2 linked regions of the Homo sapiens genome follow. The protein of the gene in region 1 interacts with the protein of each later gene in a biochemical or structural test. Each region holds a gene or a part of one and is shown in the gene's direction. Other genes may lie near its edges. The genes, in order: TENT5D and FBXO7.

Region 1 (4,524 bases):
TAAACATGTAGTACTTTACAGAATTCATTATTGCTGATTAATGAAACTGCCTTATGACATTTTCAGATTTCTTTCCAATAACCCTTGCTTGTATATTAAATGGCACCCTACAAAATATCTGATTTCTTATTCTACTTAAAACCCCTCCTCCACCCCCTACCTAGCTAGCTAACTCTTTGTTCATCATGTCCATTTTATCTGTTACTCTTTTCATGAATTTCTTTGCATAATTTGTTTTTTATTTTTTTCAATGGGATCATAGACCCTACCTCTATTCTTCACATTCTTTTGAATGAGGATTGAGTTAATTAAAGCACTTAATACCTGACACATTATAAGCATCATATAATTTTTAGTTATCATTGCCATTTAATTATGTTTAAAAATTCTACACTCAAAAGTTTAAAATTAAAAACTTATATTCAGTATTATATATATCATGTAATGTAATTTTCATATCTTTAAGAAACTGTACACGTATATTTTTCTTTAAAATTAAACTCCAGTGTAACATTCTTTATATACAAGGATTAGGATTATAGTCTTAAATGTTACTAAAAATTATTTATTTCTTTGTCATATATTATACTGCCAGGAAAACATTGAGTAGGTATCTTGTTTTACCTTTGGCCCCTCCAAAATGTATTTAGTCTTTTCTATGTTTTACTGGAAAATGCTATAAATTATCTATCTTAAAAATATCACATGGATCACTGGCTTAGCCAGACAATTTTCTTCCTATATCTACCTATTTGCCTATCTTTGTAATCTTGATATTCTTATTCAAACAGTTATGTGATAGTTTCTATAAATTGGACATACTGTAACAAAACATTATTTTGAGAAGAACTCTGTCTTTTAAATGTTCTTTTTAAAAATTAGTTGTTGGCACTCAAAACAATTATACTTATCAACCATAATACTTTTTTAACTGTTTCTTTTTGAGACAAAGGCTTGCTCTGTTTCTCAGGCTGGAGTGCAGTGGTGTGATCATGGCTTACTTCAGCCTTGACCTTCTGGGCTCAAGCAATTCTCCTACCTCAGCCTCCTGAGTAGCTGGAATGACAGATATGCATCCCCACACCGAGCTAATTTCTTTTTATATTTTTTATAGAGTCGAAGTCTCTCTATCTTGCCCAGGCTAGTCTTGAACTCCTGGGCTCAAGTAATCCTCCAGCCTCAGCCTTCCAAATTGCTGGGATTACAGGCATGAGCCACCATGACCAGCCTCTTTTTAATTGTTTAAGAATTTTTTTTAAAACAAAAACATGTTCACTTGGGGGTAAAAATTAAATAGAGAATATTTTCCCAAATTCTGTATTTCAGAAATTACAACTTAATTTTGAAGTTACATGTAGGCAGTTACAATACTTACAAAACAAAAATGTTTGCCTATCTGTGTGAATCTGCATGGTTTAACTGGTTATTTTCACTATTTTTTTCTCCTTCCTCCCTCTTCACTATTTTTTAACTTAAGTTCAAGTATCTTGAGGAACCTGTTTTTAATCTTTAATATATCTAGTATAACATTGTCTTTTTTGAGATTTGGGACTCAGAATTGCCCTATTTAAATTTATTTTTTGAAAATTCCCCCATCTATAAGAGCATTAATGATGCAATAATAATATTCCTTGTCTCCTGGCAACAGTAACCCTGGAATTGCAGCAAGTGAGGTGTAGAGAATGTGTGGAGATCAGGTGATGCAGAACTCTGGTAAAGGATGTTAGTCTTCAGAGTAAGACTGTTAAATTCAGCAAAGTCTACTATCAGAAGACACGGTGAGCAATCTTGTAGAAAGGGAGTTTTTCTTTTAGTTTTAACTCTGAGCACACATCAAAATTGACGTTTAATTTATATTTTGTCCAGAAACTTATTTGATTCAACTAAAATATCTTTGAAAATTATCTCTTTCATTAATAACTGTGCCCAAAATCATGGCTGTGGTAAAACTGAACTCAGTTAATATGTTTAAAAGGGCATCAATAATTGTTTTAATATTTTATTTTCTGAACTAGCTCAAGAGTAAGAGATAAAAGACATAACTGATACGTTGATATAGTATTAAGAATTATGTTTTTTCAGAACTCTAGAGTAAGAGAGTTACAAAACTCCCTACGTCCTACATTAATTGACTGACACATTGACATCTCAATAAATAGCCTGATGATGGATTATTTTCAAACTTTAATTTGTTTCTGAAGTGAAGTATTAAAAGACTATACCTAATTCCTTTTTTGATATCAAATGTTTTTAATTACTACATACCAGTGAAAGAAAGTTATTGTCAGGTAATCAAGCATGTTTACATATCTGTATTTTTTTTATATAGTCCTGAACTTCCTTTTCAGATTATTTTTTTTCCTTTAAAGCACTCATGTCTTATCTCATTTGTATAGTTTTTGTTTGTTTGTTTGTTTTTTAGATGGGGTCTCACTCTGTCACTAGGCTAGAGTGCAGTGGCATGATCTCGGCTCACTGCAATCTCTGCCTCCCAGGTTCAAGCGATTCTCCTGCCTCAGCCTCCAGAGTAGCTGGGACTACAGGCATGCACCACCACACCCAGCTAATTTTTTTTTGTATTTTAGTAAAGACGGGGTTTCACCATGTTGGCCAGGATGGTCTTGATCTCCTCACCTCGTGATCTACCCGCCTCGGCCTCCCAAAGTGTTGGGATTACAGGCGTGAGCCACCGTGCCTGGCCTCACTTGTATAGCTTTTAAGTACCTTAAGAGTGAAGTTACCTTATTTTCCTCTAGTAGAACAATTTAATGCAAGTAAAGTTTAGAAAAATAATCAAATTAATCATAAACTGAATGGATTTTATTAAGCCAATTGTATTTTAAAATAGCAAAGACTGCATTTTGAAATTGTTTCTTTAAAGAATGCCATTATCATTCACCCTTTTTCTCCTATGAAAATTAACTGCAGATGTGAGAGAAAATATGAGGACCTGAATATCTGTAGCCAAACTAAGAGTAGAAGGTGTTGAAATGAGGGAGGGGACTTCCCCATGATAAGGAGACTTAAGGAAAAAAGTGACTAGAAAAAAATGCCACGTCTTTCAGCAAAACTGCCTTCTGAGCGTGAACTTAAATTTGTATTTGTGTTGGAAATGCTTGAAGAAATGTGAGGAGAAGGAGGAGTTATTTGTGTGTCGGGGGGTGGGAAAAAAAGTGGAGGTTACTGAGTGGGAGGTTGGGAATTCATGGGGCAAGTCATTATTTATAAGAAAAAAAGGGAAAATAGTTTTTGGTATAGGAAAGGAGAAAGGTAGTAGTATCCCATGGGAGAAAGTTCAGCAATGAAGGAGAATGGAAAGTAATAAGAGATCACCCCACCTAGGGTAGGTAGAATCCATATGATTCCTTCTTTCTTTATTTCTCTCCCTTTAAAAAAATGCCTTTCATGGCTGGGTGCAGTGGCTCATGCCTGTAATCCCAGCACTTTGGGGGGCTGAGGTGGGTGGATCACGAGGTCAGGAGTTCAAGACCATCCTGACCAACATGGTGAAACCCCGTCTCTACTAAAAATACAAAAATTAGCTGGGCATGGCAGCGCATGCCTGTAATCCCAGCTACTCGGGAGGCTGAGGCAGGAGAATCGCTTGAACCTGGTAGGCAGACATTGCAGTGAGCTGAGATCGCGCCACTACACTCCAGCCTGGCAACAGAGCTAGACTATGTCTCAAAAAAAAAATTGCATTTCATTTTATCTTTCTTTAATGGCCCCTTCTCTTGCTTGCCTACTAGCAGGCTCCCTCCTGAGCCTCACGCTAACACCACACCCCTGTAGTTTTTCTCCTTGATGGGATGGGTTTGAGGAGAGCAGCAGTTGGTGAGGTAAGTTTTAATGTCTGAGAGGGTGCGGTGAGTAGACGGGGAGAGCTATGAACAGAAGTTTTTTGGGTTTTTTTTGTTAGTAAAAGGCTTTTTCTAGAAACATTGGGATGAGTTTCTACTTTTCTCCTTCCTCAGATAGTGTTTAAGAGGGATGTGAAAGATGTATATGGTGTTGGCTATAATTCTGGAGTCCCCTTCAGAGAATACTTAATTCCTTGAGTGTTGACAGGGTTATCCACAGAGGGGTTAGTGATTTGGAATGATGTGGATAAAGCTTATGAGGTTACTGGGTTTACTGTGAGGGTCATGGCGAGTTGTACAGCATCCAGTGCAGAGAGAATGGCATTTTGGTCTCACTAGGTGGCTTTACCTCCCAGCTTGCTTGAAAGCCTGTTGTACTTCAGAGTATTCTCAGCGATTCCCTTCAAAAGGGGCTGGAGATTTCTCTGGCCAGCTTGCTTCTCTGAAATTGGTGGCAGTTTGGAGAGGCAGCAACTCTGCATCATTTACATCAGAAGCAAGAGAAGCTCACTTGGTGACTGTTGAATTCACATAGCTATAAATCTTTACCAGCTACAGCCACTGGAAGGGGCAGAGGAAGAGTAGGAAGGGGAAGTAGTACTACTGTTGTAGTTTTCCCAATGAAGCAAAATATGTAGCAGTATTTTGTTGTTTGAGATAGTAT
Region 2 (3,820 bases), on another chromosome or scaffold:
TATTTCTGAGTCTTTTTTGCTGATAGACTTGTTCTGGGATGACTTAGTAGGGGCCATTACTTTTACTTCTGTGTACTTTTAAAGTTGTCTAGTAAGATGAAGCTTTTCACAGTATTTGTGATAGTTTGCTAGTTTCCTTTTGGAAAATTTTGAGAAATTAATGTTGCCTGAAGTTACTAATTTCAGTTCTAAGATTTTGCATATTGTTTTGTATTCCAAGACTTGTAAAGGGTGACAGGAAAATCTTTAGAGTATGGAAACTGAGCTCAAGATCTCATAAATAATGCTTTCAAGTACATCACACTCTGTAATGTAGAATGGAGCATTAGAAAAGGAAAATAGATGCGTAAAACTTGAAACCATAGGAGGTAAATTTACTCTTGTAATTAAATATCAGTTTTCTTATTTCATCATATTTGGGAATTCATCGAGTGCCTCTTGAGTCTTTAATGAGAAACGGGTAGCAGGTATCAGAACCTAATATTAGCTCTCATGCATCTTAGTCACTTGTTTTAGTCTTTTGTAAATGACATATGGCAAAATGATCTGTTTAGAGAGGTGTGGTGCTCACCTTTTTTTTTTCATTTTTACACATGTGAAGAATTTGATAAATATTCATATCAGAATAGCTCAGAGAATGTCAGTGGTTCTTATGGAGTAGTAGTAAGGCTTGACAAGCCCAGCAGGGGATTTTGATATCTCCCTCTCATGTACTCAGCCTAGGGTACCCTTTTTCATTTTTCCTCATATATTCTGTCCCACACAACTGCCAATAAGTAGTAAATGGCCAAAAGTTAGACATAGTGGTAAAGAAGCAAAACCTATGTTTCATAGTTTAGCTTGATGTTAAGTGGTTTTTAATGTAGTTGTTTCTGTTTTCTTAGGAAATATGGAAATATTTTTGTGCCATACCTCCTTTTTGGGTAATGTGACTTGTCATTGGCCTTTAGGTTTTAACAGGTGACTTTGGATCTTTTCCATAAGCCCTAGGGCTTAGGTCCTCAGAGATTTTGGAAGAACAGCTGTCACCTCCGGCTCCCCTCCATTTCTCCAACCTTTTACATATACTGTGTAATTTTAATTTCCTTTGCCCCTTCTTTAAACAAACCCTAAAAAGACGAAACGTATGCTTTGCATTAAGAGTTGGGCATATGCCTAGGAAACAAGCTTTCTGAGCAAACTTAATATAGGTAACTTAGTTTTTTTTGAAGCCATGTATTACATCTCAAAGCCCTGAACTGCAAGTTTAGAGATCTGGGTTCGTTTCAAATTTTTATTAGCTGGTAACCTTGATTATGTTATTTAATCTTTCTGATTTATAATTATAGGATCTATAAAAAGGCGATACCTGCCATGCCTATTTTATAGGATTGTTATAAAGTGCAAATAAGAAAACATTTTGAAAATAAAGACATTATGAAGTTGTAAGGTATTATCCTTCAGCATTTGTTCAGCAAACATTGAATACCTGCTATGTGCTAGGTACTTTACTGGGGTTACAAAAATGGGTGACATGTAGTCTGGTTTTTTATAAACTTGCAGTCATGGAAGGATGCAGATATGTAATCAGAAAATTGCAATACAGTGCAGTGTGATAAGGTGCAGTAATCAAGCCCGTTGCAAGGCAGAGTTGTGGTCTGTGTTACCTCTTTTGAAGAAGTGGAAAATACTGGGATGAGTAAGAAGGCACTGGCAGAAAGTGAACTTGATAATGAGTCAGAGATCAGGTAATGAAGGACTTTGTATGCTAAGGGATTTAGAAGTTTGGTCTTCATTTGTAGACCTGCATTTCTCAGTGTCCTCTGAAAATCTAGTTTCATGAGATGGTGTCACAGGGATGTTGACTGCTGAGGACGGAGGATAGTGTTTTTTGGTAAAGTGTTAGGCACACACTATTATTGTTATTAGACTCCTCAGTGCTTATATAATGCGAATAGTGTATTTTGTGAATATGGAGGGTGAAGTTAGGTGGCTGCAGCATGCAGTATTTTCCACACTTATTCCGTGTGCACCACCTTTTTTCCTAAGAACATCTAAGGCACAATTGAGGGAAATGCTGTTTATGTTGGGGAGGTACTGGTGAATTTTAAGCTGCGACATAGTACATGATCAGATTTTTAATTGTCAAGAAAATTCTGGCAGCAGGGACTGGGGTGTATTGGAAGACAAGAAAGTTGAAGAAGGGATACTTGCAACGGAAGCTCTTGCTGGATGTCGGGAAATAAATGATGAGAGTTTGAAGTGCCAATAGAGCAGGAAGGGGCAAATTTTAGACATATTTAGGAGTTAGTTTCAGGGAACTTTGAAGACTGATCAGATGTGGAACAAGGTTTAGTTAGGGAGGGAGGAGTCTAGGATGATTTCCAGGTTCTTGACATACCAGCTAGAATTAACAGAGGTAAGGAATTCAGGATGGAAGAGTAGGTCGCAGGCTTATTTATTTGTAAGGACTCACTTAAAATGTCTCCCATTTCTGAACCCAATGATGTACTTTGACTTTCAGCACTTAGTTCACTTTAGGATACAAAAATGTATAGTGTAAAAATAAGTCTTTAATTAATTCATTGTTTTGTTTTCCTTTTTCAGTTAGGGCCTAGTCAAAATTTTGAAGCTGAGTCAATTCAAGATAATGCGCATATGGCAGAGGGCACAGGTTTCTATCCCTCAGAACCCATGCTCTGTAGTGAATCGGTGGAAGGGCAAGTGCCACATTCATTAGAGACCTTGTATCAATCAGCTGACTGTTCTGATGCCAATGATGCCTTGATAGTGTTGATACATCTTCTCATGTTGGAGTCAGGTTACATACCTCAGGTAAGTACTGCAAGCAAAACACAGACATCTTATGATTGCTCATACATGTGGATGGTTCCTGCTCTCAAGTTGCCCGTAGTCTGAGAGTGGCAGAGAGAGACAAAAATATAAAGCACTGTGCTATATTGGTGAAGTTCTGGGAGAAACATACTCATATATAGGATGCCAGGAATTCATGGAGGAGAACATTTAGAATATTGCTTCTCAAACTTTAATGCGCTTTGGAATACCTGGGGACCTTATTAAAATGCAGATTCTGATTTAGTAACTGTAGAATGGACCGTGAACTTCTTCATACTCCTGCATAATACCAATGTTGCTGGTCTGTGAGCCATGTTATAAGTTACAAAGATACAGAGTAGTTCGGTGATCAGTGCACACCTGCAGCATGCCATGCACTGACCTAGAAATTAGGATATAAAAATATTGGGATATTTCTTGTCTTCAAGGAGTCCATACATAGAGGAGAGAGATGAATAAAAAGATACTCAGAAATAACACAGGTAAACATAGATAATAATACAATTGAAGTGTAATGGAAATATGAATAGAATGCTAGGGGATGAAAGGAAATGGCAAACAATTTTTCTTTGAAAAAGGCTTTACGGAGGAAGTGATATTTGAGCCGGAGTTTTAAATAATCATATGGCTTTGCTAGGAGAGAAGTGAGTCTTTGAAGAGAGAGATCAATCCCTGTTTCCATGATGCAGTTTTACCTATTTGAACAAAAATTTTGATTAAAAGTGTTCTAATATATTATCTTATACAATATGGTTATCCTACAATATAAAATATATTGGCAATGTTAATGATTTGATGCATTTTATTAAGAGGACTGTGTGGAGTGATTATTTCAAACAAGTTAGGAGTCTTTTGGATTTTTAATCTTTTTGAGAGTAACACCTTTCTTCATTATTTGTTTCCCTTTCATTTCGTTCCCCAGGGCACCGAAGCCAAAGCACTGTCCATGCCGGAGAAGTGGAAGTTGAGCGGGGTGTATAAGCTG

Evidence for each region.
Region 2: of the proteins of TENT5D (region 1) and FBXO7, one has a biochemical effect on the other in vitro, tested with the Homo sapiens proteins (one large-scale study listed by BioGRID).

Annotation. Positions count from the first base shown.
Region 1 is NC_000023.11:80,418,786-80,423,309, forward strand, and holds the start of TENT5D (terminal nucleotidyltransferase 5D), read left to right. Parts: upstream 1-1,661; 5' UTR 1,662-1,778; intron 1,779-4,524. UniProt on the Homo sapiens protein: Catalyzes the transfer of one adenosine molecule from an ATP to an mRNA poly(A) tail bearing a 3'-OH terminal group.
Region 2 is NC_000022.11:32,481,311-32,485,130, forward strand, and holds part of FBXO7 (F-box only protein 7), read left to right. Parts: intron 1-2,586; coding exon 2,587-2,814; intron 2,815-3,757; coding exon 3,758-3,820. UniProt on the Homo sapiens protein: Substrate recognition component of a SCF (SKP1-CUL1-F-box protein) E3 ubiquitin-protein ligase complex which mediates the ubiquitination and subsequent proteasomal degradation of target proteins and plays a role in several biological processes such as cell cycle, cell proliferation, or maintenance of chromosome stability.